Linked DNA regions of Homo sapiens. The protein of the gene in region 1 interacts with the protein of each later gene in a biochemical or structural test. Each region holds a gene or a part of one and is shown on either strand. Other genes may lie near its edges.

Evidence for each region.
Region 2: the proteins of NFIC (region 1) and SOX5 form a complex in vitro, tested with the Homo sapiens proteins (one study listed by BioGRID).
Region 3: the proteins of NFIC (region 1) and PAX7 form a complex in vitro, tested with the Homo sapiens proteins (one study listed by BioGRID).
Region 4: the proteins of NFIC (region 1) and LHX2 form a complex in vitro, tested with the Homo sapiens proteins (one study listed by BioGRID).
Region 5: the proteins of NFIC (region 1) and PAX2 form a complex in vitro, tested with the Homo sapiens proteins (one study listed by BioGRID).

What each region holds. Positions count from the first base shown.
Region 1 is NC_000019.10:3,431,155-3,437,118, forward strand, and holds part of NFIC (nuclear factor 1 C-type), read left to right. Parts: intron 1-2,363; coding exon 2,364-2,438; intron 2,439-3,122; coding exon 3,123-3,246; intron 3,247-3,928; coding exon 3,929-4,053; intron 4,054-5,964.
Region 2 is NC_000012.12:23,539,085-23,545,048, reverse strand, and holds part of SOX5 (transcription factor SOX-5), read left to right. Parts: intron 1-1,664; coding exon 1,665-1,838; intron 1,839-5,964.
Region 3 is NC_000001.11:18,733,678-18,739,641, reverse strand, and holds part of PAX7 (paired box protein Pax-7), read right to left. Parts: intron 4,011-5,964; coding exon 3,764-4,010; coding exon of another isoform or gene 3,603-3,763; exon of another isoform or gene 3,504-3,602; intron 1-3,503. UniProt on the Homo sapiens protein: Transcription factor that is involved in the regulation of muscle stem cells proliferation, playing a role in myogenesis and muscle regeneration.
Region 4 is NC_000009.12:124,013,804-124,019,767, forward strand, and holds part of LHX2 (LIM/homeobox protein Lhx2), read left to right. Parts: intron 1-157; coding exon 158-360; intron 361-1,318; coding exon 1,319-1,722; intron 1,723-5,964. UniProt on the Homo sapiens protein: Acts as a transcriptional activator. Stimulates the promoter of the alpha-glycoprotein gene. Transcriptional regulatory protein involved in the control of cell differentiation in developing lymphoid and neural cell types.
Region 5 is NC_000010.11:100,750,993-100,756,956, forward strand, and holds part of PAX2 (paired box protein Pax-2), read left to right. Parts: intron 1-5,964. UniProt on the Homo sapiens protein: Transcription factor that may have a role in kidney cell differentiation. Has a critical role in the development of the urogenital tract, the eyes, and the CNS.

The DNA.
Region 1 (5,964 bases):
CTGGGACTACAGGTGCCCGCCACCATGCCCGGCTAATTTTTGTATTTTTAGTAGAGATGGGGTTTCACCATGTTGGCCAGGCTGGTCTTGAACCCCTGAGCTCAGGTGATCCACCTGCCTCAGCCTCCCAAAGTGCTGGGATTACAGGTGTGAGCTACCACTACTGCGCCCAGCCCAAGGCCTCATTCTTTTTCTTTTCCTTCTTCTTTTTTTTTTTTTTTTTTTTTTTTTTGAGACAGGGTCTTGCTCTGTCCCCGAGGCTGGAGTGCAGTGGTGCAATCATAGCTCACTGCAGCCTCAACCTCCAGGGCTCGAGCTATCCTCCCGCCTCGGCCTCCCAAGTAGCTGGGACTACAGGTGTGCACCACCACGCCCAGCTAATTTTTGTACTTTTTGTAGGGATGGGGTTTCGCCATGTTGCCCAGTCCCGTCTCAAACTCTGGGGCTCAAGTGATCCACCTGCCTCAGCTTCCCAAAGTGCTGGGACTATAGGCACAAGCCACCATACCCAGCTAATTTTCGTATTTTTTGTAGACACAGGGTTTCGCCATGTTGCCCGGGCTGATCTCAAACTCCTGAGCTCACGAGATCCACCCACCTCAGCTTCCCAAAGTGCCGGGATTACAGGCATGAGCCACCACGCCCGGCATCCTTTTCACGGCTGAGTCCTATTCCAGTGTGTGGCTAGACCACGCTGTGTTTATCTCTTCATCTTTTGAAGGGACATTTGGGTGGCTTTCCAGTTTGAGCTGTGGTGAACAGTGCTGCTAGGAACATTCGTGGACTTTTGCTGACCTATTAATCTTGGCTGCTGTCTGTCGCTCACACTGGACTTTGAGTCTCACAGGGGCAACTGCTTCAGCCTGTATCATCTCCTGCTGTGCCGGGGCCCAGCTCAGAATCAGACACTGTGGATGCTTAGTAAACGCCTGTTGAGTCCATGAATCCCTCCTACAAGGGCGTCCGAGGGCAGGACAGGGCTGTCCCCAAGCTGTCTGAGGTTGGCCAAGGCTCCCGACCTCTCGGGGACAACTTCGATTTCCAAATCTGTGAAATGGGTCCAAACCACTCCAGTCGAGAGGACAGTCTCCCTTCCTTTAATATTAGGTAGGAGCAATGCTGGGGACACTGAGGGTTTTAACTGCGGCTTGTGGGCCTCCCATTCAACCCCCCATTTTAACTGACCCATTGCTGGGTGCCAAGCTCTGGTCTAGGCACGAAGGACACTGCAGGGTCGGGGCAGACAGACATCCCTGCCCACACGGACCTCCCAGTCTGAAGGGGAGAAGAACAAGAAGCCAGAGTATCTCGAAGGGTGACAGTGTGTAAAGCAAGCCAGCTGCCCCTCCCAGGCAGTTGGATACAGATCTCACGACAACCCCGATGATGGGATTGATGGTTTCACTTTTGCAATTAGGGAAACTTGGAGGCTGAGAGAGGGAAAGTGACCTGCCCCAGATCACACACCGAGGCAGGTGATGGAGCCGATGTGAGCCCAGGCCTCCGCTTTCCGCTCTTTTTTTTTTTTTTTTTTGAGATGGAGTCTTGCTCTGTTGCCCAGGCTGGATGGAGTGCAGTGGCGCAATCTCGGCTCACTGCAAGCTCCACCTCTCGGGTTCACACCATTCTCCTGCCTCAGCCTCCCAGGTAGCTGGGACTACAGGCGCCTGCCACCACGCCCGGCTAATTTTTGTATTTTTAGGAGACAGGGTTTCACTGTGTTAGCCAGGATGGTCTCCATCTCCTGACCTGTGATCCTCCCGCCTCGGCCTCCCAAAGTGCTGGGATTACAGACGTGAGCCACCGCACCCGGCTCCACTCGTTTTTTAAGAGAGGGTGTCGCCCTGTTTCCCAGGCTGGAGTGCAGTGGCACAACAATGGTTCATTGCGGCCTCCACCTCCCAGGCTCAAGTGATCCTCCAGCCTCAGCCTCCTGAGTAGCTGGGACTACAGGCACGGACCACAACACCTGGCTAATTTTAACACTTTTTGTAGAGATGGGGTCTCGCTGTGTTCCCCAGGCTGGTCTTGAAGTCCTGAGCTCAAGCGTTCCTCCTGCCTCGGCCTCCCACAGTGCTGGGATTACAGGCATGAGCCACTGCGCCCGGCCTGCTGTTCACTTGAATGCAGCATTCCACAGCATGGGGGAACCCGGATGAAGGCTGTGTGAAGGCCCACACTGGACAAGGACCCCCCACGGGGCCTTCCCCATCAGACTGGAGCTGTCATTCCCCCACAGCACAGGATGGACAGGGGGAACGTCCAGGCTCGGGCCAGCCCCCAGGAGTCCAGGCAGCCCTGGAGTGTGGGGAAGGGAAACAGGCCCAGCTCAGCCTACTGACCCCGCTGTCTTCCTGTTCCAGACACGACCGACTTCCAGGAGAGCTTTGTCACCTCCGGCGTGTTCAGCGTCACTGAGCTCATCCAAGTGTCCCGGAGTGAGTGTTCCCGTCAGCCCTGAGCTGGGTCTTGGAGAGGGGAGGGGGCCGCAGGGAGGAAGGAGCCCACCCCCCTCACCCTACTCCTTGTCCTTTCCAGACAACCCCCTGTGTCACTAAGCCAAGGTTCCTAGAAAGGGAGGTGGCCAGGCCCTTCCCAGAGCCCAAGGTCAGGGCTCCCTCCCACCTCTCCAGGAAACAGAATCTAAATGCTGGATGGCAACTAAGGAAACTTCTGCCCCAGCATCCCTCCTCCTCCCTGGGGCCTCCACTGTCCTGTCCCAGGAGACCCCAAAGGACCCCGCCCCTCCTGTCCCCTTGCTTTCTCTGCTGACCTGCTGGGGACCCAGCACATTCCGTCACACACTGTCTGAATCCCACCCCAGCGAGTCCTGGGCGCTGTCCTTCTTTAGCCCTGACTGACACCTTCCCTGTCCAGATCAGCAGAGCCTGGCCTCCAGCTTTGGCTACACCTCTGCCTCACAGTGTGCTCTTGGCCTCTCCCCATGGCCTTGGTCCTCTGATCCATAGAATAAAACTGGTTTCAGCCACCCTAGGAACCGGGCCAATATGGGAAGGGGGTCCCCCTTTGGACTGCACCCAGTGGCTTTCCCTACCTCTCTAAAGCAAACCGCAGCACTGGGCACTGCTTCCTGCCTCACTCTCCTCTGTCACCCTCTGCAGCACCCGTGGTGACTGGAACAGGACCCAACTTCTCCCTGGGGGAGCTGCAGGGGCACCTGGCATACGACCTGAACCCAGCCAGCACTGGCCTCAGAAGAACGCTGCCCAGCACCTCCTCCAGTGGGTAAGTACCCAGGTCCCCACCTCTGGGCATTTCATGACCCCATTCATCAACCCATCCCCTCTGGCCCGAGCTGACTCATTCCTCTCCCTGGAATACCTCTTTTCACGATTCACCTGGCCTGAGAAACTCCTACTCATCTCATCCTTCAAAACCCAGCCAGCCCCACGTGCCTCTTCCCCTAGCCCTGACAGCCCACCGTGGGCTCCCCCAGCCTCAAGTCCTGCCGGCTCAGCCAGCCCTTAGGACCCTCCCCACCCAGAAGAATGCAGACACAGGTTGTTGCTGAGATATGCTTTGTGACCTCGAGCAGGTCACACTGTGTGTGCCCCAGTTTCCCCATCCATAAAATGGGATCATACCCCTAACAGGCAGTTCTGAGGACTACAGGTGGCCAGGAGATTAGCCAGGCTGCCTGGGTTTTGGTCTCCACCATGCTAGCTTGGTGTCCGACCTGTGTTGAGACCCTCCCTGCCTCTGGCCCGGGTGTCCCATCCAAGCAATGGACAGGTTGGAACAGGCGTTCGTAGGGAACGGGCTGAACGCCCGCGGCTCCCGCGATGTCTCGCGATACTACCTCCCTCGCCCCCGCTCACTTAAGGACCGGAAGTAGCAAAGCCCGCCGTCGCGCCCCCCGCCCCGCGTCTCCCTGGTAACCAGCCTCTCCCCTTCCCTCGCCCATAAGGAGCAAGCGGCACAAATCGGGCTCGATGGAGGAAGACGTGGACACGAGCCCTGGCGGCGATTACTACACTTCGCCCAGCTCGCCCACGAGTAGCAGCCGCAACTGGACGGAGGACATGGAAGGAGGTAGGGCTGGTGGCGGGGGCGGAGCCGGCCTTCCGGTCTGAGTCACCGTGGCGGGAACTACGTCTTCCGGCAGCCACTGCGCGGGCGCCGCGGGGCAGGAAGCCGGCCTGGAGCCGCGGGGCCTCCTGGGAATTGTAGTCGTCCCGAGCTGCGCTTGGCTGGAAGTACGGTCCGGGTTCGCGTTCTCGGATCTCTTTGGTTCCGCTGCGGCGAAGGAGGGCAGAGACTGTCCCCTGCCTGACTCTCCTGCCCTCCGGCCGTGAATGCCACATCTCTGTGGGGTCCCCGAGCTGCAGGATGGACTCAGTAGTGACTCTGATCAACAGGGCGCCTCTTCCTGGGATCTGTCATAGAATCCCTCGTCTGTAGGGACCCTGTTTGTCCTCTTCCCCTCTAGAAGGTCCTGAGATGCCGGATCCCTTCTCATTGGGGTCCTTCTTGAGGTTACTTTTTTTTTTAACCAGGTTCCCATCTCCATGGGATCTTCTGGTTCTGCAGGAGACTCGTCTCCTTTCTGTAGGGTCTCCATTCCCATGGCGTCGTTTTCTAGGAAGATTTTATCCTCTTGCTTTTCTGTCTTCAGAAGGGTCCTCTCTGGGGTGTCTTTCTTTCTTTCTTTCTTTCTTTCTTTTTTTTGAGATGGAGTTTCGCTCTTGTTGCCCAGGCTGGAGTGCAATGGCGCGATCTCCGCTCACTGCAGCCTCCACCTCCCTGGTTCAAGCAATTGTCCTACCTCAGCCTCCCAAGTAACTGGGATTACAGGCATGCACCACCATGCCCGGCTAATTTTTTCTATTTTTAGTACAGACGGGGTTTCACCATGTTGGTCAGGCTGGTCTCAAACTCCCGACCTCAGGTGATTCGCCCGCCTCGGCCTCCCAAAGTTCTGGGATTACAGGCGTGAGCCACCACGCCCGGCCTCTGTTTTTGTTTGTTTGTTTGTTTGTTTGTTTTTGAAACGGAGTCTCGGTCTGCTGCCCAGGCTGGAGTGCCGGGGTGCAATCTTGGCTCACTGCAGCCTCGACCTCCCAGGTTCAAGTGATCCTCCTGCCTCAGCCTCCCAAGTATCGGACTGCAGGTGCATACTGCCATGCGCCGTTAATTTTTTTTTTTTTTTTTTTTTTTTTTTTGGTAGAGATGGGGTCTCACTATGTTGCCTAAGCTGGTCTTGAACTCCTGAGTTCAAGTGTGATCTTTCCTCCTGCCTCGTCCTCCCAAAGTGCTGGGATTCCAGGTGTGAGCCACCATGCCGGGCCCCTCTTATTTTTTTTTAATTTTTGTTTTTTGAGATGGAGTCTTGCTCTGTCACCCAGGCTGGAGTGCAGTGGCGAGATCTTGGCTCACTGCAACCCTTCCTCCTGAGTTCAAGCAATTCTCCTGCCTCAGCCTCCCAAGTAGCTGGGATTACAGGCACCCACCACCACACCCGGCTAATCTTTATATTTTTAGTAGAGACAGTGTTTCACCATGTTGGCCAGTCTGGTCTCAAACTCCTGACCTCAGGTGATCCACCCACCTCGGCCTCCCAAAGTGCTGGGATGACAGGTGTGAGCCACTGCTCCCGGCCACCTGTAGGATTTTTAGAAGCAGTATAACATTAGGATTAAGAGGTCAGATTCAGGCATTGGAGAGACCTGGGTTCAGATCCCAGCCCTGCCCGTGTCTAGCTCTGTGTGCTGTGTAACCTGGGGCACATCACTTAACTTCTCTAAGCCTCAGTTTCTTCATCTCCACAATGGGGGTGATGTGAATAATGTTCTTTGGGAGCTACAGGAGGAGGAAGGGTAGGATGTGCGTGAAGCAACCGTCTGGCCCATGCGACATACCCGGGAAACGGGAGGTCACTGTCATCCACGTCTTTATAACATTCCTGTCTCTGACCAGGCTCGGTGGCTCACGCCTGTAATCCCA
Region 2 (5,964 bases), on another chromosome or scaffold:
TTTTTCTGGGTCTAATGTTGCAAACATTTTCTTCTATTTTCAGCTCCACTTAGCTAAGATAAACCTAGCCTATGTACATTTAAAGAGCTTGTTTAGATTTGATGAAGACACATAATGTTCATTTTATTGCTTATGTTGCTGTAAGGTGTAAGAACAAGAAAAGGCAGATGTGCAAATGATCACTTGCTAGTTACAAACCCATTTTAGGAAGATGTTGCCATATATTTGCACTTATTTTGTCAATAAAAGACAATTACGGGTAATAACACATTTCATAAATTTTAAGTTGTATTAGCATGATAAAATATACCCACAGTAATCAGCATTAACACATCAAAGTTTTTGTTGCTGTCATTACCTAAATTCAATCATGCTTGTATGTGAAATATTTTCTACTTTTCATTAAATCAAAGAGCATGTTATTAATGAAAAATATTGAGAAACTTCACCAACAGGTATGCTATGTTTTGAATGTGCTGCTATAGAGGTCTTCAAGTTTGGGCAATTTTGTTTGATTCCTGTGTCTCCAAATTTAAAAATAAAGAAAAGATGAGGAATGAATACAAAGCAAGAAAAGAAAAGCAGTGCTTTTGTTGATAATACAGTCTCTACAAGTCCCCAAAGTATTTTTAAAGTTTTGGATACTATCAAAATACATCTACTTATTTTGTGATAATACCCAGTGAAAACCTACTGTCAGAGTTCTACTGGTTCTCCTTATTTTCTCTTTGCCTAAACTCAAGTATCTTGGAAGCAATTTAATCTGCTGAAGCCATTCTAAGGGGTCACATAAGGCTGGAGGAGTGAATGCAGCTTCCAAAGCTATCGTTGTTAACTCTTGAATTGTGTTTTATCATCTGTGAATCTTACTGATTGAAATGTGACTGTCCATGGGACTCTTTGGATAACTTTAAATATTAGGGGGAAAATTCAAAGGAAATTATTATTTTTCTCATCTTAAACATGTGACTGTAGACTCCTTAAGAAACTAGAGGAATGTAACTGTTCATTTGTTCTTTTCCATACCAGTTTTACATATATTTTGGGGGGCAGACCTGTCATTGCTGTATCAGCATATGTCATGCATTTGTCAGCATATAATTTCAAAGAAAAGCCAATTATATTACAGGGAAATACCTATATTGTTTTTAACCTCAAAATTTGGTCAGTGTTTTTATTTTTGTAACCTCGGAGAGAGAAAGAGAACATAAGGTACTATATGTTCAGACAGTCTTTAAGTAGCAAAGATATATCCTCCCCTATAATCATCCATTCTGCCAAATTGATTTGTGCTTCTTTACCTATTTAATGTTTCTACACTACTGGTATGCCTGTTGATTTAATCTGACTATCCTCTTTCCGAATTGCATCAAAAATCACATATCGGAGTTTATTTTGAGCTGTTGAAAGTAAATGGTGAAACAGTCCATTGAAAGAAAGAGAAAACAGATTAGAAATTGGTTAAAAATACAAATATAACATTTGCCACCACAAGGCTTATCAGAAAAACTTCATAAACAAGCATCTGTCTTAAGAACTGGAAGTACCATTATCAGAAGTACTTTTTCTTTTCAGATATCTTAATAGACTGAAAAATAGGAATGCAAGGAAAAGAGCTGACAAAAGTTTTAACGCTAACACGAAGTGATGTTTCCTGTTTTCAGGAAGTGCTGGAGTCTCAGAGTCAAGAATTTATAGGGAATCCCGAGGGCGTGGTAGCAATGAACCCCACATAAAGCGTCCAATGAATGCCTTCATGGTGTGGGCTAAAGATGAACGGAGAAAGATCCTTCAAGCCTTTCCTGACATGCACAACTCCAACATCAGCAAGATATTGGGTAAGAAAACCATTAAGAACTAAGTGACGTATGGAATAAAGGTACTGTTCTGTTTTCTGCAGTTGTGGAAGGATCCTGGATTTGGAGGCCATACAGGTCGTGTTATTTGCTTATCCAGAAAATAAACATCATCATTGAGGCTTCTTCTGGTGATGAAGCATTCTATGTCCATTGAGAAATATGCCATATTTCTATAGCTCATGTAGCTGTTTGTCTTCATACTAATTATTTTAATGCTTTATCTTCTTCAAAAATCTAGAAATATTTTTACTAAAGCTGAGAAAAAAGTTGCTTTCACATGAGCCACTAGATATTGCTACTGATCATTTGTATTCATTTCCTTGCATACTATAGACAACTTACTGTTAATCTTAAGGCCTCCTTCCTCTCTCATCATCCTCTGTAACAGAAGGATAAGGAGTTTTATTTGCGGAATTCATCTTGTTGTGGGGGTGAGGGTGGAGGTGGGGAAGATGTTTGTTCCAGTGCTATAATTGAAAATCAGTTTTAGATTTTCAGAACACAAGAAGATGTAGAGTGTACATTTTTACATTTATACTTTTAGTAACCTTAAGTACTAAAGGTACTTTTAGTCATACTAAATACTTTTCTGCCATTGCAACATTCAATTGAACAGAAAACAAAGTACGCATTTACTCTACCCACACAGAGACTGTAGCACACAGGAAAAATGGTTGGGGAGAAAGGGTGCTGATTATAAAGATACCTATTATAGACCAGTTCAGGTCCCAGGGGGAAAAAGAAAAAAAGAAGATTCCATTGCTTTTGTGCCTTATCTGACATCATTATCACTGTCATTGTCATTCATCACTGTCTGATGGCCAGATACTAGACAACCTAAGAAAATTTTGATGATTCACTCTGTGACTTCTAAGAGTTAAGTGACAAAAATAGAATAGAAACATTTTATCAGAAAATGTTGGTTTTAACAAATAAGTAACAAAATTTGTCAAAATTATTAAAGTTTTATTAGAATTCGTAAGGCACTTGGAATTACACGGAGTTTATAAAAATAGTATCACTTTTGATTCATTACAGATCATCTATAAATGGCAAACATATGCATGAGGTTTTGTTTTGCAGATGGAGTCTCGCTTTACCGCCCAGGCTGGAGTGCAGTGGTGTGATCTCGGCTCACTGCAACCTCCGCCTCCCGGGTTCAAGCAATTCTTCTGCCTCAGCCTCCTGAGTAGCTCGGATGACAGGCGCGGGACACCATGCCCAACTAACTTTTGTATTTTCGCAGAGAGAGGGTTTCACCATTTTGGCCAGGCTGGCCTCGAAGTTCTGACCTCAGGTGATCCGCCCACCTTGGCCTCCCAAAGTGCTGGGATTACAGGCATGAGCCACCACGCCCGGCCGTATGTTTTTATGATCCCATATTCTCAACAAAGATAATAGATGCCACCTAGTCCACAAGGTGCATTTGTAATGGGATCAAAACAAACCATTAGCCACTTAAAATTGTGTCTCATTTTTCACCTAAATGTTATCTAAAAAGACATGAACATGCAAAGCTTTCAGTAGTATACATAGAAAATATGAAAATCTGTGTGTAAAAATATATATCATGCATAATCAAAAACTTGAACTGATCAAGAGGAAATACACATTTTTTTACATCTCTACCAGCTCTGATCTATTTTTCCCTTTTGTGACTATATTTTTTGTGACTATATTCTACCTTCCATGTGAAATTTCCTATCTTTAAAAAACAACATACCAGTTTCATTTGGGAAAACTCTAGAAAAGAATACTTTATGTAAGCATATTTCATGTTTTAATATATCAGTTATTCCCAAATTAGAAATCCAAAATTGTCAGAATAAAAACCAAGTTAAATACTAAGATTTCAAAACTGTCTTTATATTATTCAATTCTTGTGTCTGAATACCAAAAAGGTGATAATCATTAATTAAAACTATCTTAACTATAAGAGAAATATCAGTTTTGATGATAAGAAATGATATTTTAGGAAATGTAGCAAAAGTATCTATGGAAAAGAGATGACTGGCTATGAGAATTCCCTTCTGATTTGAGGGAAAGAATATTAGAATGACCATATGATTATATTATAATAGACAACATGAAAGAGAATACTGCCTAATTTCAGTCTTTCTGATGAAAATGTATTCTTTAAAGATATAACATTTATATTTAGGAACAAATAAAACATTGAGGTATTTTGGGCTCAATATTTAGTCACAGCTTTAAATAAATAAGTGATCTTCAAATATCCACAAGATCATTCTAAATGACCCATTTCATACAAAAGTACAAAGAAAGCTTGATGTTTTCCTCTTTGCTGATTGTTTTGGATAACAGCCTCCGACAGCATGCCGCTAATTCATTCTGCTTAAAACAGGCGCTTGAGCTGGGTTGACATTTTACGTAGTCTCTGGGGATCGTAGTTGACATTTTAAAGGGCTTCTAAGCATTTTATAATACCCTAAAATCTGGTTTTAATAAGCCATTCTGCTGAAATTGTTAACATAAGGAATCACCTTTTACTGCTTGGCGCTAGATCAGGGGAAGAGGGACATCTTTTTCTGATTAGATATACAGTAGTTTAGTTGGAGTAAAATGTGCAAATTCACTACAGACCCCACGGAGATGACAATGTTGCCCAGCGCAAACTCTTCACTTTCAGTGTATTGCCAGATTTAGAAAGGAAAGGAATAATCGTTGGACCTTATTTTTTCCCCTATTTTGAGCATCAAATACTTTTGATTGAAACTTCCTCTTTTGTCATCAGGAGGAAAACCCAATTGTCCTTCTCTGCTTTTTATTATTATTATTATTATTATTATTATTATTATTATTATTATACTTTAAGTTTTAGGGTACATGTCCACCATGTGCAGGTTAGTTACATATGTATACATGTGCCATGCTGGTGTGCTGTACCCATTAACTCGTCATTTAGCGTTAGGTATATCTCCTAATGCTATCCCTCCTTCTCTGCTTTTTTATTCTAAAACGACAACCTTTTGAAAGCAGCAGGGAATGAATAAACTCCCTGTACATCAGTCCAGAGTAAGCAGCCAGCCACCCCCAAATCAAGTAGATATTTTTTCTCTCTTTTTTTTTTTTTATTGTTGTTTATCCAAAATATTTTCCTGCCATTCTCATCAAGTATGTTTCAGGGGTTAGTTAACACCTCAGCTGCATACAATGGTTATAGTACCTGCAAAGCCATTGAAATCAAAACCAAACTTGTCAGTTGGTTAAGCTAATTCAAGGTTACTATTTTGAAAATGAAAACTGGATTTACCACCAAATGGAAACACTGCCCTGTACTGTCATAAAATATAGTAGTCAGTCAGCCATTTGACCCGGTTAGTACTTAGCCTATCTTTATTCTTAGTTTTGAAAAGACTTGGAATTATTATATGGCCATATTTTAAAGTGTAATTTAGGATTCAGTGATACTCTCAAAGAAATTATACTATCAAGAGTTAAACTATTTTATAATTCCCGTTCATGCCAGATTTGGAAGCCAACTTATCTGAGAATTTACACATCTTTTATTATCCCATTTCTTTACATACACGCATCTTTTTTTCCTCTTTTTTTTTTTTTTTAAGCCAGACCAGCTTTCTTTAAGTTAGTCTAACTCCTCTTTCCACCGAAAGACCTCAACTATTATATTCTTCCTCAATAGGATGCTCTTCTCTTTGTGAGCCCCACGGGAGTCATTTCTACAGCAAAGCCTTCCTGACCTGCAGAGGATTGATCTTGCCTCATCATATTCTCTTACCTTCCTGTACTTTCTACAACTATAAGGAAAATAATAAATTTTGTAATTAGATATTTAATGTATATTCCCTGACTGAATATAAGCTGCAAAGAGACAGGAACTATAACTTTCTGTATTCACTCACTACTATATATTTATTAAGGAATGAATGCAACATTATGTACATAGTAGGAAATATACAAACAAACAGCTCTCGCATTCCAAGGCAGATTACTTCTAAGCATAAACATTTTCTTTCCTTTGAGAGGCCAAAGCCTTTTGGCGTATAGATCATTTAAACTTAGGGAAGAATCTTTGGCAATTCCCCTTCTAATTGAAAATGCTTGGCCAGGAGTGGTGGCTCAC
Region 3 (5,964 bases), on another chromosome or scaffold:
CCAGGAACCAGGCTGCAGGTGTGGCTGTGTACACATCAGTATGGGCTGCCGGGTGACCTTGCATAAACAGCCTCTCTGGGATCCCATTTCCTCATCTGTCCAATGGGAATAACCACGTGTACTGCATAGGGTGGCATAAGGATGAAATGCTAGACCCATAGTAGATGCTCAATAAATGGTCGTTCCTCCTTCCTTTACACATGCACATTTTGTATATTTATATCTTAAAGCTGTGTACACACATTAGTGAACACTCACATATAAACCCCTCTCTCTGCGTGTGTGTCTATCCATATGCACATGCATGTGAAGCTGTGGACATGAATCCACGCATGGGTGGGCTCAGGTGTGTATCGCTGCTCAGTGGCCTCCACAAATCTGTGGTTTGAAGTTAGAAGACTTTGGGTCCACCATTGCCATGCTGTGGGATTTTGGAAAAGCTACCTCGCCTCTCTGAGCCTCGTTTTTGCACCTGCAACCTGGGGACAAATAACTTAGAGAATGACATGAATGAGGAGCATGCATTTTGCCCAGTGCCCTGTGGGATGAACTTGGGCAGAGGGCAGGTGTTAAGGGAGGACAGATGGACCTGGGCATAGGCGGGCACAGTCCAGGACATGGGACTCTTGCACACACACTGGGGCATCCCAGCCACAGATGGATTAAGTTGCCCAGGGATGTGGGGCAAGTGGTTAGCGGGAACATGATGTGTCTCAGGGCCTCCAAAATGCCAAAGGAGAGGGAGGTGGTGCAATGGAAACACTTTGAGACGGCTAAGTCTAATTCGTGGCCTCCATTTCACAGATGGGAAGACTGAGGCTCAGAGAGGCAAGTGTGTGGCTGCCTGCACTAATTGGGGGCAGAGGAGGGGGCTTTTCCTCCAGCCCTTCCCTCCCAGCTTGGGCCCAGAGTCTCTGTGGGGTGAGTTGGGGTCTGTGCTGGGCTCCCTTTGGGGAGGGCTGGAGAATGTGGCCAAGAGGAGCTCTGAGCTATTCCTGGAGAAGCCAGGGCAGCAGGGGTGGAGCTGGAAGGGGAGTGACAGGAGGAGAAGGGAGTGGAAAGAGAGGATGGAAAAGAGAAGAATGGAGTAGGGGGTGGTGGGGGAGGAGGAAGCTGCTCTGGCTGGCTTTGTCCAAGCAAGAGGAGAACAAACCCTCCTTTCTCGCCTCCTAGGCCCCTTCCCTTTTGATCCCCTCCCCTGCTGCCCCCATGCTGACTTTGGGGTTAATTTTATTTCCGAATTGAGCAGGCGCCCCTGGAGCAGGGCACCGAGCTTGGGTGTGACTAACGCCTGCCCCAGGCCGGGGCTGCCGCTGCCGCTGGGGTCACTCTAAAATATTTATCAAGAGCATGTGTGTCCTGCTGCATGCCCAGGAACACGGGCTGGGTCAGGAGGTCACCCTGGGACCCTCTGGAAATTCTCCCATGCACATGCGTGCACCCTGCTCTCAAATATACATGCAGACCCCCACGTACACATTCACACACACACACACACAGTTATACACACAGACACAGTGTATGTCTACACCCAGATGTACATCCATACACATGTACACACAGCCACACCTATGACATACTCAAACATACACTCATACACTCACCCCTATTTACACACTGCACACAGAATATGTGTCCACACACAGGTACTTCCAAACACACAATCACAGACACACTCAAGCATGTGTGCATGCCTCAATGCATGGCTATACACATGTACATACAGTCACATGTTTGCACACTCATATACATCTATACACACGCATACATATTCATTATACCTATCTACATATTGACATATGCATACCTATGCCAAACATGGAGGCACACATAAAGACACGCTCAACCATATGTACAGACTTGAATGCACATTTAAACATGTTTAAGCAGATACATATACTTACATATATGTGTGCACATGTGTGTTCACACACACAGATGTGCACATCATGTATGCACAATATGCTCATTTATGTGCACGCATGTGAAGTCATATACACATATGCTCACATGTGCCCACTGACACATACATGTATTCGCGCATATGCAAAGATGCATGCAATAACACATGGGTGCTGAAATAGAAGCATCACATGCACACACACACAAGAATTGTAACATGTCCCAACATACGTACTCACAAACACCCATACACACATGTGTACATACACATATGCAAACATGTACATGCACAGGAAGGGTTGTGAACACAGCTGGGAGGTGGAGGCCGACATAGCTGGCCCTCATTTGGCAGTGGCCCTCATTTGGCAGTGGAGGCCAACGACACGTGAAGAGGAGTGGGTTTGGGGGGGTGGGCAGGAAGCAGAGGTCAGAAAGGCTGGCCCAGGGCTGGGCTGGGGGAGAGGACACCCTCAGGGATGGGGGCCTCACCCTCTTGCCACACGCCCTTCTGATTAGTTTGACACCAGCAGGTGAGGCCTTTGCAGGGCGGTGGGGCAGGAAAGTGACCCATGACCTCTGGCTCCCTGTCCCATCTGGACCTGCCCTGCTGCTGGCCTTGCCAGGCGGTGGAGGCTGTGTCCAGGCCTGCGTTTTCCAGCCTTTGGTGTGAGGATCCACGGTCCCTGCCTCAAGGCAAGGCACAAAGGGGATAGCAGCTGGGATGGGTGCATGAGACCATTGCAGAGTTTGGAGTGGAGGAGAGAGTTGGAAACACAGCTTTCCCATGCCCTGCGGCAGAAGGGGCAGGGTCTCCCACTGAGCTGTCCAGCACAGTGGCCACCAGCAGCACATGGCTGCTGAGCACTTGAAATGTGGCTAGTGCGACTGGGAAACAGAATTTCAAATGCCGATTTCACTTGAACTAATTTAAAGTCAAAAACCAATCTTCAATTGGGTTATTTAGTAGTTGGAAAACTTACAATTTGGAACACTTTGGGTTTGTAAGTATATTTTCTCAGTTGCAAACTATATGAAATTTAAATACAGATCAAGTATTTCTGTTGAAAACTCAGTGTCCGAATTAAAATGGGCTGTAAGTGTAAAACACACACATGATGTCAAAGACATAGCATAAAGAAGAGAATGTAAAATATCTCAATAATTATATATGAATTGCATTTTGAAATGATAATCTTTTGGATGTACTGGGTTAAATAAAATGTTAGTAAAAATAATTCCATTGTTTCTTCTCCTTGATTTTTTTTTTTTTTTTTTGAGACAGAGTCTTGCTCTGTCACACAGGCTGGAGTACAGTGGCGTGATCTCGGCTCACTGCAACCTCCGCTTCCCGGGTTCAAGTGATTCTTGTGCCTCACCTACTTGAGTAGCTGGGATTACAGGTGTGCGCCACCATGCCTGGCTAATTTTTGTATTTTTAGTAGAGACAGAGTTTCACCATGTTGACCAGGCTGGTCTTGAACTCCTGGGCTCAAGTGATTCGTTTGCCTCAGCCTTCCAAAGTGCTGGGATTACAGGCATGAGCCACCACGCCTGGCCTGTTTCTTCTTATGTTTTAAAATGTGGCCACTAGAAATGTTAAGTGATATTTGTGTTGTGTATTTTATTTCTGTTGGAGCCATAGTACGGAAGCAGAGGCTTAGCCAGGAGATGTCCTGGGTTTTGCCCAACTCAGTGTCATTTTAGGTGAACTGTTCCATCTGGCTGGACTTCAATTTTTCCATCTGTGAAATGGACATTCCCCACCCTGACACCACCTTGTAGCTCTCCATAAACAAGCAGGAGGCCCTGGGGGTGGGAGAAGGAATGGGGACGGGGGACGCCCAGGGCACCAGGCACTCACTCTGGCCGTACTGGCCGTACTGATAGCCGGCCACGGGGTCCACGCTGTAGCCGGTGGTGCTGTAGGTGGGTGGGCAGTAGGCCTGGGAGGTGGGCAGGCTGTCTCCTGGCTTGATGGAGTCGGCCCGCTGGCTGCAGCTGGCTGAGATGGAGGTGGCCGAGTCCAGGCCGCCATGCAGCGGGGAGATGGAGAAGTCAGCCTGTGGCTGCGGGGGCACCGCACTGGGGTTGCCCAAGATGCTCATCACCTGTGGGGAAAAGGCCATTAGTGCCAGGCTCACCGGACAGACCCCAGAGACACGAGCACACTGGGCACAATGCCAGGCTGGCCCTGGAACACTCTTTGCCAGAGTTGTTCCCTTGAAGTCTCTGTAGCTTCGAGGTCCTCAGTTTACCTGATTTGCGTGCCCTCATGCATGGGATGGCTGCTGGTCTTCGGTGTTTCTCTTGAAGGAGGGTCCTGACCCAGGGATCCTCCTTCCACTGAGAACTCAGCAGGGCCTTACTCGCCTCTCTAGCTCCAGGGTCTGGCCCTAAGGGTCACTCTGGGCCTGTCTATTGAATGAATAAATGCATGAATGAATGCATGAATGAACGAACTGGCTAATGAGGCCTCTCCCATCAGTCAGGGAGTTCTCCAAGCTCAGAGAACTGTGCCTCCCCCATCAGACTGGGATGGCCCCATCTTCTAACACAAACATTACAGCAGGACTCTTGATCTGTCTGCTGTCACTGTGTGTGGCTTGCTCTGCCTGCCACTCCTCCGGACTCTGAGGTTCCTGCCCCTTCGACACTGAAGCCCACAGCCAATGCTTTCAAAGAGCCTCTCAGGCCCCTTCCTTTGATTCTACCAGCTCCTGAGGTCTGTGAGCATCCCCTCCTTCCCTGCCTGGCCAGGTTCCGCAAATAGGAACTCACTGTCAGTGCTGGCAACACAGACTACCAGGGGAGGCTTGTCTCTAGAAGCTCAGCTTAGGGGACCTGGATGGAGGTCCAGGTGTTCACTTACTGGGATGTTCACTTGTTTACTCCACAAACAGGCATGGATGGTGACTCTGGCCCCAGGCTGAGAGCTGAAGGCTCTGAGACTTCAGAGGAGAAAGAGCCATGGTCCCTGCCCTCGGTCGGGGGAGAGGAGGAGGAAGGGTCTGGGTCGGGTGAGGGAAGCTACTAGCAAAGATCATAGAGACATGGAGTAGTGATACAGGCATCTTATCTATCAAAGGACACAGAGGAGGGCACCCAGTCATCCTTGGCAGTCTGGGAAATCTAGGGGAGGTGGAACCTGCTGTCTAGCTCTCCAGGAAAGAGGACGGGGAGAAGCAGTGCTTTCCTGGGGTGGGACTGGGAGTGGTGCAGCAGGAGCTCCTGGAGAGTGGGAGGGCACAGTGTCCCAGTCAGTTCAGAGCAGAGCAGGGGAGAGGGCAGGAGAGAGAGGGCACAGTGTCCCAGTGAGTTCAGAGGAGGGCAGGGGAGAGGGTAGGAGGGAGAGGCAGGCCCTCGTGAACCTAACCTGCAGGGCCCAGGCCCCTGATGACCTCCTGGTGATGCCGCCCTTTATGGGAGGAAGACCCTGAGTATGAGGTGGGGACGGCTTTGCTGATAATCTGCCCAGCACCGAGACGGAGAACCACGTGGCAATCCCTGCTGGGCACACAGTTGAGTTCCCTGACTCCCCTTACAGGGTAAGAAAGCAGGCTGCGGGCATTCGAGCAGTGATCGTTTTGCCGACTAGACACCTTCTGAAGATTTTTACCTTTGCCTTTATTATTGGCTTGTGCCACAGGCATTGAGGCCTGGCCACAGTCGAGGGCACTGATGGATTCCTCGGGCTAGGGACAGACAGCGAGCTCCTCCGTTTACCAGCTGTGTAACCTCGGGAGTATCCCTGAGCAGTTAACTCATTTGACTCTCCCAACCCAAAAGCCCACAGAGATTTGTGGGGCAAAGCTAGGATGCCCATTTCCCAGATGAAAAACTGAGGCCCGCAAAGGGGCCGTGGCTTCCCTAGATCTCACAGCAGGCCCAGGGCTCAGTTCGCCTGACCCTGGCTCACCTGCAAAATGTCAAGTTCAACTCTCAAGAATGAATGAGGTTGAGGCATCTGATCACTTTAGAGGGTCTCACTCCAAGGACCAGCAGTAGTTTGTTTCCTGGGCAGCTAATGTGGGGTGAGTGGGGTGGGGTCCCTTGCTCTGGGGG
Region 4 (5,964 bases), on another chromosome or scaffold:
TTTGGGGTGGGGGGAAGCGCGCCGCATGTCCTGGCAGCCCCCTCCGCGTTCAGGGTAGCCAAGGCCACAGAGGGAGTTGTGGGTGCCGGTTTCCCGGCGGCGGAGGGGCCGCTGGCTGACGCAGGCGCTGCTGTCTTCCGCCTCCCTCCCTTCGCAGACCATGCCGTCCATCAGCAGTGACCGCGCCGCGCTGTGCGCCGGCTGCGGGGGCAAGATCTCGGACCGCTACTACCTGCTGGCGGTGGACAAGCAGTGGCACATGCGCTGCCTCAAGTGCTGCGAGTGCAAGCTCAACCTGGAGTCGGAGCTCACCTGTTTCAGCAAGGACGGTAGCATCTACTGCAAGGAAGACTACTACAGGTAGCCCCCCCACCCAACTGCCCCTCAGGACCCCTCCCCCCAATCTCAGGCACAGTCTTACAGTTTGGCCCTCTCCTTTCCGTTTAGTCCCAGGAGAGGGTTCACTACTCAGGACTCCCCCGCTCCCCCCCCAAGTTCTCCAAGCCACCACAAGTTGGGTGATAACCTTTTAAAGCAGCAATTTGGGGAGCTCTTGGAAAGGTCTACGAAGTAGGAGAACCAGAAAAAAAGCAGAAGCTGCCCTCCTGCTCGGAGCTTAGACCACAAAAAAGCTTGAGTTGGGATCCTTGCTCCCCTCTCTCTTTGAAGTTTCTTGAGTTAATCCGAGGTTATAGAAACAGGCACCCCCAAACCTAGGCAGCCCAAGCTGGAGTGAAACACAGCTGGAAAGAGAGCTGTGGGAGTGGGTGCATTTCCAGGTCTTTTGAGAAAATGGGAATGAAAGGTGGCCAAGATCAAAGAACCAGAATCACTAGTAGACTCCAAGTTCTCTGTTTCTCCTTCTCCCCAGTTTTAGGATTAGGGTCTATGTATATTCTCTCTGTCTCTGTCTCTACGTCTGTGTCTCTCTCTCTTTCCCTGTCTCTGTGTTTCTTCCAAATTATAAAAGTCAGTAGGATTCCCAGGCGCTGGTTTGGAGGGAGGAGTAAAGGTTGAGGAGGGGGTAAGTGGTAAGTGTCTCCCTCCACTCCCAGGTAAAGGCTTTCCTAGGGCTTGCGGAGACTCTGGGTGAAGTAGAAGTCTCTGTAGGCATAAGTGTGTTAAGGGAAACTATTTTAGGACAGGACCAGGCCTGGGTCAAAATCTAGTTCTCTCTCCCCCCCATCCTCCAAATAAAGGCCGGGTTGTTCGTCTTGAGGAGGGGATTGCCCCCCGCAGCAGCAGCGGCACCTGGAGGAGGAAAAGGGGGGTACCCAACCGTGTGTTCCCACAGCCCCTCCCTCCATGGTCCCTACAGGCGCTTCTCTGTGCAGCGCTGCGCCCGCTGCCACCTGGGCATCTCGGCCTCGGAGATGGTGATGCGCGCTCGGGACTTGGTTTATCACCTCAACTGCTTCACGTGCACCACGTGTAACAAGATGCTGACCACGGGCGACCACTTCGGCATGAAGGACAGCCTGGTCTACTGCCGCTTGCACTTCGAGGCGCTGCTGCAGGGCGAGTACCCCGCACACTTCAACCATGCCGACGTGGCAGCGGCGGCCGCTGCAGCCGCGGCGGCCAAGAGCGCGGGGCTGGGCGCAGCAGGGGCCAACCCTCTGGGTCTTCCCTACTACAATGGCGTGGGCACTGTGCAGAAGGGGCGGCCGAGGAAACGTAAGAGCCCGGGCCCCGGTGCGGATCTGGCGGCCTACAACGCTGGTGAGTGCGCGGCGCACGAAGCGCCCCCATAGGGTTGGGGGAAAGTGTGCGGCCTCGACGGCCGGGAGCTGGATTGAATCTCTGTGTGCTGGGCAAATAGCGAGCCTTAAGCACCGGACGGCCTCGCAGAAGGGACATTAGCCCCCTGGGCTTCCAGACTGTGCGTCCTCGGCTGGAGCGGGAGGAGAGGGTGCAGTGGTCCCTTGCTGCTCCGGGTGCAGGGCCTTGTCTCTGATAAATTGTTTTTTTGGAGATGGCTTTTTGGTTTGGGCCTTTGCCCCACTTTGCTAGGCAGGAAGTGGCAGGGATGGAGAAAGCAAGGCGGCGCTGACGCCAAACAGGTTTTGGGTTGGCGCGGCTGAGGGCCGGGAACTGGGGCAGCGAAGGAACGAGGCAGGGCGGCGAGGGTCCCAAGAGAAAGGGCTGGCTGTGGCCCGGGGCGCCGAGCTCGGCCTGGAGTGCGGCCTGACCTCGTGAAATGTCCCAAGGGCGGCAGGCTTGGGGAACTCGGGCTTGGGGAACTCAGGAAAGCAAAGGCTGCGGTTCCTTTTGCTCGGCCCGATCCTCCTTTAAAGACAGGTCTCAGTTTTCCCGGACTTTTTCCTCCGAGTTTCCTGGCGCCTGCTGGGGTGAGGGCCGTGACCCTCGGAAGCGAGCCCCCCGGGCGGGGACGAGACCGGAGCAGGCCTGGCCTCGCGCCGGGGTGGGGTGGGGTGGGGTGAGGTGGGGGGCTTGGTTCGGATTTCCGGCATCTTTGAACCCCAGGCCATTCCCGGAGAAGCTCTGCCCCCTCCCGCGCCCCTCCCTGCTCAGGACAGCTGCAGAGGTTCTGAGTTCCGGCAAATGAGCCGTCAACATCTGCCCGAAGTCTGCAAGGCCCGGAAAGGTTTATGACTCTCCGGGCTTCCGAACTAGAGTTTATGTGCAATTATTTTCTTTCTTTCGTTTGCAACAGAATTAGATTTGGAGATTTTGTGTTCTTCTTCCTTTTCCCTTTAGTCTAATGCACAAGCAGAAAAAAGCAAAAACAAAAACAAACCCAAGACTGTGCAGAGGGTGCTACGGCGGGAAGAAGTCAGTTATTTTCATCTTAAAGAATCTGAGTTGAATAGAGAGGGAAATGAGGGGCGGGTGTTCGCTCCAACGAAATCGCTTGGAGGATCATGGGGCGTGTGTCCCTGTGTGCGGAACTGGGAGGAAAACGCAGCCCCCAGTTTGGTAAATGGTGAAGCAGCGGTAGGCCGGTCGGTGGCGCGGATTTAAGATTTGCTGAAGGCACTACCACAGATGTAGCTCTCTGGAACTTCCATCCCTCCTCTCCTACCACCCCCCAAAAAAAGACAAAACCGAGTTCAGACCGGCTCCCCCAACACCAAGCCGCTTCTATTTATCAAGTGGGTCAACTTCCACTCGGAAGCACCTCGCGGGGCTCGGCTCCAGGGCACCTGGTGGCTGGGGAGCTGTATTGTTTTCCTGGGCACGGAGGTTCGGCGCCGGTTTTAGGATTGTGCAAAAAGAGAGTAGAAGGTACAGAGATTTATTTCTGCTTTTTGCTGTTCAGCCGCCGTTTGCCCCAGCGAGGTGGGCTGGAGGCTGAATTTCAAGCCTTGTTTAACCTCTACAAGAGACACCCTCCATTCAGCCATCTCACTTTCTCTCTGGCCTCCCTCTCTCTTTTTTTCCTTTCCGTTCTCTCCGTCCTTTCTCTCTATCTCTGTCTCTGTGTGTGTCGTGTTTGTTCCCGTGCCCTCCTCTCCGACCTTGGCCGGGGCTCCTAGTCCTGAGAGAAACGGCGTTCGGTGCGCCGGCGGTGGCTATGCGGCTGGCTCTTTCGGGGCTCCCGGGACTAGGTTGGGGAAAGAGGGCATCTCCCCGGCCTCTCGGGGCCCAGCCCAGTCTTCCTAGATCTGGCGTCCGCCCTTCCCTCCCCTCCCGCACTGGCAGGAGAGAAATGGCCGCAGTGTGGGCCGCGGGGCAGCTAGGACTGGAAAGCGGGGACCCTGGAGGGTGCGATCGCGGACGGGGTGTGCGGGCGCGGGTCGTGTGCGTGTGCGTGCAGGGTTCCGACCACGGGGACACGAGCTTGTTTGTGGCAGTGTCCCACATCCTGTGGCCCAGCCACGACGACCCCTTGCAAAGCCTCTTGCTCTGGGGACAGTCCCTCCGAGGCGCGGCGGCACCTTACTGAAGGGCGGCGAGCTGGGGGCCGAGTGGGGAGGGGGCGCCGTCGGGGCGCCGGGCGCTGGGCTTACAGCAGAGCCGCGGGCCGCGGGGTCGGAAAGTCCTTCCGGGGCGGGGCCGCAGCGGCCTCTTCCCGCAGCCCCTCGGGCCCGGGCCCCGGTGGAACGGAAACCTCCCCCTACCCCGGGAGGGGCTGCCAGCGGGCTGGGGGTGCGAAAACGGCGGCAGGAGCGGGCGAGGGGCCCGGGCCGCGCACTTTGCGCCTGGGTTTGCGCGCCGCGGCCGCGGGAGTCCCGCGCGGACCGGCCGGACGCCCGGCCTCCCCCAGCCCCAGCTTTTTGTGTGTGTGTGCCTGGCGGCGTAATTACTGATTTGATTCCAATCCATTATTTAGACAATTGAACCTACAATCTCGTCTTTAGTAAAATGAGGCGAAGTCAGATTTGATTACAGGTTCAGTCCCAGCGACAAGAGCTCGAAACCCGATGGGTTAATAACAGATCACGAGTAAATTATTCATGATTTTACGAGCTCTTTAGCTCCATTGAATCGGCCTAATTGAGAGGAAAAAAAAAAAAAAGGAGAGAGAAAGCCCGGGTCCTCCCCCTCCCCTCGGCCCCTCGCTCCTCCCCGGATCCGATCCTGGGGAATCTCGACCCGCCCCCGGGCACTGGGGGCGGGAGTGAGGGGGTTCGGGGCGCCGGCCAAACCTGGGCCCCACGGCTGCCTCCCCCGCCGCCGCCCCCTGCCCTTGCCTCTGGCCGGCCTCGGCCTCGCTACTTAGGGCCGGCTCCTTTCCCTTTTTCTCCACTCCCCTTCTTTCCCCTTTTCTCTACTCCCCCGCCAATAACGGCTTCGGAAAAGGCCTCCCCCGCAGGGACCGGGTCTCCCGGAGCCCCGGGATTCAGCTCGGCCACCGGACCCTCGCCACAAGCTGCGCCTGTTTCCGGGACTCGCTTTCCCCTCCGCTCTCCCTATTTCTTGCTGTCTTTGTAGCTGTCTCTCTGTGGTTCTCCTGGCTCCTTCGCTTTCTTTTCCTCTGTCTGTCCTCTCTTTTTCCTGGCTCTGTCCATCTTCCGTCCCTACCCCCTCTCTCTTTCTCTCCCTCCATTCTGCCTTTCTGTGTTTGTCTTTTTCTCTCCTTTCTCTGCCCTTTCTGTCCCCCTCCCCCGCACTACTACCCCACCTAGGCGGCACTCAGGGCAGGTCCCTTGGGCCCATGGGGGCGCCGGGGTCCCCACGGAGCTCATTAACAGCAGCCAGGCCCAGGCGGGGGCTCGGTGGAGGGATGGGCCCAAAGATACCCCGTAGGGAGGCTGCCCCACCCCCAGTGGAGCTGGGGACTGGGGGAAAGAAAAGGGTTGCTCACCTCAGCGGGTTCCAAGCAGTTCTGGTGGATCAGGTTCAGAGGCATCCTCTGATCCCCTTTAAATTGCCGGACCCGCGCTCTTCACTCTGGGCGTGCTCTCTGTGGGAATGCAGCCCCGGGGGTGAGGGGACCTGAGTGCCGGTGGAAAGAGGCCCCTAGGAGGTGTAGCCCCTAGCTAACAGCTCCAAAGGCAGGGGCAAGACTTGTATCTTGCAAATTCTCTCTGCAAGGGGCTCTTCCCCATCTGGGCAGGGGAAGGGGGAGGTCACCAGCAGAGTAAAAGTCCTTTGGAGGTAGTGTGGCCAGGCAAAATGCAGCATCCCCAGTTAAATTGGAATTTTGGGTACGTAACAAATACATTTTTAGTGTAAGTGTCCCCGGCAATATTTGCATTTTGGAAAAATAACGAATAAATTTGAAATTTGTAGTATAAGTGTCCCGTGTAATATTTGAATTTTAGATAAATGACAATTTTTTAGCATAGCTGTGTCACCTGTAGTATTTGAATTTCAGGTAAACAACAAATACATTTTTAGTATAGGTATGTCCCATGCAATATTTAGGACATGCTTATACTAAAAAATTACTTATTATTTTTCTGAAATTTATATTTAACTGGGCAACCTGTATTTTCATTTGCTAAATCTAGAGCTCTGTTACGGGTATGTGATGAGGGCACAAGATACCTTCTC
Region 5 (5,964 bases), on another chromosome or scaffold:
CTTTCTCCCTGCTTCCAGCCCCAAATCCTTCTGTCAGAGAAAGGGAACCTGTGAGGCAGAGAGTTAGACAGACAGACAGGGCTGTCTGCAGTTCAGGGCTGGGTATTCCCTGCCAGGCTTCTCCCGCCGGCGTCCTGGAAATGAATCCAAGTGTTTGTGGTAATTAAGACTCCAAGATTACGAGCATCCAGCCTTGGGATCTTGAGACAATCACAGCCTGCAGCCGGAGCCTTTAAAATGACCAGTGTCTATTCATCCCTCCAAACAGACTGGCCTTTCTAAAGGCTGCTCCTTCCCCAGGGGCCGCCGCTTGTCCTGGCTCCCTCACCCTCCCTGCCAACTCCCACAAAGCTCACCTCCCAGGAGTCTGGTCTTGCTAGCCAGCTCCACACAAATTTCTGGCCTGTAGGCACTGGGATCCGGGCTTGCAGAACAAATGCCAACCACCAGCCAGCAACTGGCAGGGAGTAGAGGAGCTGGACAAGGAGGGAGTGCCAAGCAGGGAGGGAGAACTCCAGACTTTGAGACTGAACCTTGGGTGATACCCTCAACCACCTAAGGTGCCTGTCTCCAGGCTGAAGTCTTTGCACTGATGACAGGCTCACACACGTGAGGACAGCACAGGGCTGAGTCAGCTTGACGTGTAGGATATTTAGGTCTCCTGGTCTCCAAACCCCTCCAGTGTGCTCTCGGGGAGAACACATGTGCACACTCCATGCATGTCCACCCTAGCCAGTGTGCCAATATGCCTATCTGTGGTAGCTACAGAACATACAAGCAGCACTGGGCTCAGGAACCCAGGCTGGTTTCAAGATCACAGAACTGTACAAACTGACAGTTGTTCACAGAGTCCCTGCACAAGTCACACACCAGCCTTGGCCCCCCATTTTGAGACACCCCAAAATGAAAAGAGGGCTAAGCAGTTCATACCTTTGTTATTTTTTGCATTCTTCATAAGCTCATTATCAGGGCAACTAATAATTCACATGGTGCCTTATTCTGAAATTGGCATCACATATAAAGGATTTTTTAAATATTTTGCAAATGATATGGAATTATCCCAAATCATCCTGAAAACAGCAGGTAAAATTAGCTGGTAGAATGTACCTTGGCTAAAGAAGATTCCCTCTGCCACACTCGTGCTGTAATGTACTGCGAGGCGACCCCAGAAATTATCCCAGTGTGTGCCATCTGTATTAAAATGGTTATTCAGTTATGAACAGGGTAACATAATACTGATCAGCTAATTATACACCCTCCGAAAACCCTCCAGCTCCCTCGGCCTGGCTCAGCCAGGTATTGAAAGCATAGCGATTTGACATTCAGATACCTTCCAAAGGAGCTGGAGAAAGACGCTGGGTGGTTTGGGAGAGGAATAAGCCCTTTGCTTTAAAAGCCAGGAGAGGAGGCTGGGGCAGCTTTGGGCTGAGGCAAGAGTGGCACTTCGGGAGGGGAAGGGGACAAAGCATTGTTTTATGAGCCATGTAGAGACTCAGTCTCTTGGCTGATTGCTGGTCCTGGGCATGAGTTGGAACTGAGATCTCAAGAGAAGAACAGCCAAGGGCCAAGAGTGGCCCTGCTGTGTGCAGTGTTGCTGGGACTGGGTAGTGGTCTTCTGCAGAACATTTAAGAGAAATGCTTGTTGTCAGTAACAGAATTTTCAAGCCTTTGGAGAAACCCAAGTCATGTAGGATTTAGGTAATTTGTTTCTCTTGAATGGGGTAGAGGAGTGGCGCAACAAGTCAGGTGTGGTGGCCCCGTCCAACACCCCCTGCCCCTCCCCTCAACAACATGCACTCCTCATTGGCTGAGATGATTTTGGAAGCTGGCTTAGGCATAAGTTTGGAAATACTTCTATCCTGAAAAGCCATGGAGAACAAGGGCCAGGTGACCCTAGGATCAAGCTCCAGAGGTCTTGAGGTGCACCCACCAGAATTAGGACAAAGTAGACAAGTGAGCCACAAGTGAGATGAGGGTGGGGAAAGAGTAGCCTCAGCTTGACAGCTGTGACAGCTGCAGAACCTGCCCAGCACAGAGCCCTATCACCTGAGGGGCACACAGGCTTCCTTTGGGTGTGGAGAAATAGCCATCTGTGGGCAGATGTTGCTGGAGATGGAGAGGGAGTAGGAGGAGAGGAACAGGTAAGCCACCAACAACACGGGCAGCCTACCCTGGGTCCGTAGTTAGGCTTCATGGCTGGCTTTGTCTACAAGGAGCAGGAAAACTATTCCCAATTTTGCTTTTGTCCAGAATCCTCTCATGGTTCATATTTTGGAAAGAATTCTGGGGGCTTCCCTGTGTGCTGCTGAGTTGGGGCTGGAGAAATCCACCTGGGGAACCACGCTCTCATCTTCATCCCTGTAGGTGCTTTTTGCTCTGAAGAGGGAAGGTTTATCTGAGATGTATTGTTTCACCCAAAAGCCTGATAAAAACAGGATGTTTCTGCTAGTGCTGGTTATATCAGAAACTTTGCCTTTTATCAGTTCTGGGAATTCTCACTCACTGTAGGAAGAGCCCGGAGATTTTCCTGTGTGCACAAAGTGTGGTGCACCGGGGAACGGGTGGTTCTTGAGTTTAGAGCTTTGTTGGTAGTGACCTGCCCACTTGTGTTGGGTACTTTATAACAGTTATGAGTAAGGTTGTGCATGAGCTGGTGGTTGGCAAGAAAAGAAGTCCACACATGCTCACCCACCTGAGCTAGTGGTTTTTCATCTTCTCCTTCCCAAAACAGATGCTGTCGCCACACTTGAAATATGCTGTTATGGTTATAAACTAAATTGCTTTTTTCACTCTTTAAAAATGGTTTTGGCATTCTCTGATTCTGTTGTGATAAAGGCCTGGCCATCCAGCCTGTATTCTCCACTAGCAAATCCTCAGAAATGCCTCTCTGAACCAGAGGACTGGGTCAGGAAGGCCTCCCCACTGCCACAAACCACGTTCAAAAATCCCAAGGCTTGACTGGGCTCCTTAGCATGTGGAATTTATCTGAATCTTTCTAAACATTGGGTTACCAATGGCTGAGCATGGAGTTGCCAGCTTTTTGGTTTGTACACCGCTGCTGTAAAGGGCAGGTGTTTATAAACAGGGGACTTTAGATTGAAACCTGGTGTGGGACATGGCCTGGAGAGGGGAGAGGTGGAGGGAGATCCATGCTACTGAAAAAGGAAAAAGTCGTCTAGTTACATAGCTGAGCAATTGTCTAAGCAGGAGGGATTTTCCTGATTATATGCCAAAATCTTCTGGTTTGGCTGTTACTCTGGGCAGAGAATACACCTCCTTTGAAAGAACAGGCACAGACCCCAAATAGAGTCTGGGGTTACTGACAATCCCCCGAGGGTGCTCTTTTGGGAAGAGCTGACAATAAGGGTGTCACCTTCTAACTTTTTTAGCTTGCCTAACACTCTTTGGAGTCAGGGCACTCTCTGCCCCTAGATCTTTGGAGTGGACCCTGGCAGAATCAACTTCTCACGGATCTCCCACTATCCACACTCTCTCTTAGCCTGTTAGGCTCTAGGTGAGTACATTCATTCTCCTAGCAGTGGCAACCCAGGGCTGTGTTAAGGAATTCCATCCTGTATCATTTGGGTGTCCCTCTTCTGTCATTCTCAGGTCTTTGAGTCATTCTCAGGTCATTGTTCCCCTTGGGTCAGGCAGTGGGGTGACAATGGTCTACTAGTTGTTCGTTCAAAGACCTTTCCAAATAAGCTGGGAGCTATTAATCCTAGCCCCGTGAATGTTGAAGATATGTTCCGGGCTAGGGTCTGTTTCTCCCTCTCTGAAACTCAGGTTCCAGAACATTGCCTATTCTACTCTTGGACCTGGCTTGGCATGAAGCTTGGCCAGAGGGGTGGTACTGCCTACCACATCTCCATATCTTTGTAGCTGTTTGGTGGTCAGGGCTGTTGGTCTCATGGCAAAGAGACAGGGCAAGTTGGAGAGTTCAGAAAAAGACTTCTATCCACAGAGGAATGGCAGAAACAAGGACAGGGAACTCACCTTCTGTGGCCTGAGCCTAGCAGATTGGGCCCACAAATAGCAGACCAACATGCCAATTTCTGTCAGAGAAGCCTCGCTCACCTGTCCTTTCCCAGAGACAGTCCCCTACTGTGAGGTTACCCATCATTGGAATAACATTTGAAACAGGCATGATGGTTGAAATTCTCATTCCTTAAAATGAGCTGGAGTTGTCCTCCTGAAAAGCCTCTTTTTGTTTTTGTAGTTGTTTTAGCCTGGGCTTCCTGGCCCACAGTCCTGTTGGTCTGACTGTCTCCCTGTTGGCTGGTTCTGTGGGTGTTCAGGCTACAAAAGGGGTTTCTGGTGAGAGCAATTGCTGCTTGCCCTGCCTTCCTACCTCAGCTGGCAACTCTCGAGAAGAGGCAGACAGGAGGCACTGGGCCTGACAACAGCTCCAGGTGCATTTCAGAAGGTGACGCAAAGAAGAAAAGAGAGGGAAAACCCAAAATGAATAAATAAATAGTGTCCCAACTGTTCTGAGAACTCAATAAAACAATCACATCAAATATGAAGAGGCATAAATCTTGTGTCTGCACAGGTAACCTACTCAATTGCTTTTATTATCGCTCAGGCTGCCTCCATTTATTACCGTTCATGGCCTGGGCAAAGGAGGCTGCGTGGAGGGTGGTCTCCAGTGCAATCCTACACCCTGAGAGGCAACAATCAGCCCATACAGCCAGAGATTTCGATGGGAGCCCAGGAAGGGCCCATCTGTCTGCATGAAAACCAATCAATAACTCTGTAACCAGAGCCCTTGTCACAGGGAAATGGACAACACAACAGTTCAATAGAGGGGCCACAGGGGGAATTAGCCAAGTGGAGATGGGGCCAAACAGGAGCAGCCCCTAGAGAAGGGAAACAGGGGTGCCTGGAGTAGGGGAGATTAGGGAAGGGGTGGAGATGTGGCAGGGGAGAGCAATAGCTTCATATGCATGTTGGTATTAGATGGGGAGTATTGTGCAAAATAGACCCAGGGAATGACAGGCAATGTTGGAAGTTGAGGTGGTAGGGAACATGTGTTTTGGACAGCATTTGGGAAATGGGCTTGTTCTGGTGCACATGGGAGAGTGTGACTATGCATGATGGCATGTGCTTGCGGACTAGAATGTTACAGCTTCTACAGAAAGAGGAACAATAGTAGTAACTGGTGTGGAAGATTAATCACACTCCATACCCCCTAAAACCCCTCTGAAAAGGGGGTTCCTATGAGCCCACATGGGATAGGGGTCCTGCTTCCCAGTCTTCTTAGCAGGACTGATGAAAGAGCCCCATTGTCCGCTCCCAGCTTCTTAGGTGTCCAACAATAGCTACTCTGCAGGTTGCCTCTTAATACTCAAGTCTATCTTCACCCCCTCCTTGTGTCTACCTGGAATTGGAGTTTTTATATTAAGAAGAGAACAATGGTGTAAAAGTGACAAGCATCCAGTAGAAATCATACTTCAAGTACCCAAACAACCATTCTGTTTCTCACTTTCAATACAGTATTCAATAAATTGCATGAGATATCCAACACTTTGGTATAAAATAGTCTTTGTGTTAGATGACTTTGGCCAACTGTAAATGTTTTGAGCATGTTTAAGGTAGGCTAGGCTGACCTATGATGTTCCATAGATTAGCTGTATTCAATGCATTTTCAGCTTACAATATTTTCAACTTATCGAGCCATTACCCTGTTGTGAGTTAAGGAGCATCTGTACACTGAAAATAATTTATTTTTCACTTCCTGTCCTTTAAAAGAATGCTCATCCGACCTGCCAGTTCTCTGCATCCCTGCTGTTTCTTCTCACACTTCCCCCGCCCCTCCAAGCCAGGTGTCCAGAGCTCAGATTCTTGCAGGGGAAGCAGCTTCAGGTGCAGCTATCCCCAGTGCAGCTCCCCAGCCATGCAGTTGAGTCCAGAGAAGGGGAAAGGGCTCCTGAAACTGAGATGTGGGAAATAGAGTCTCACAAC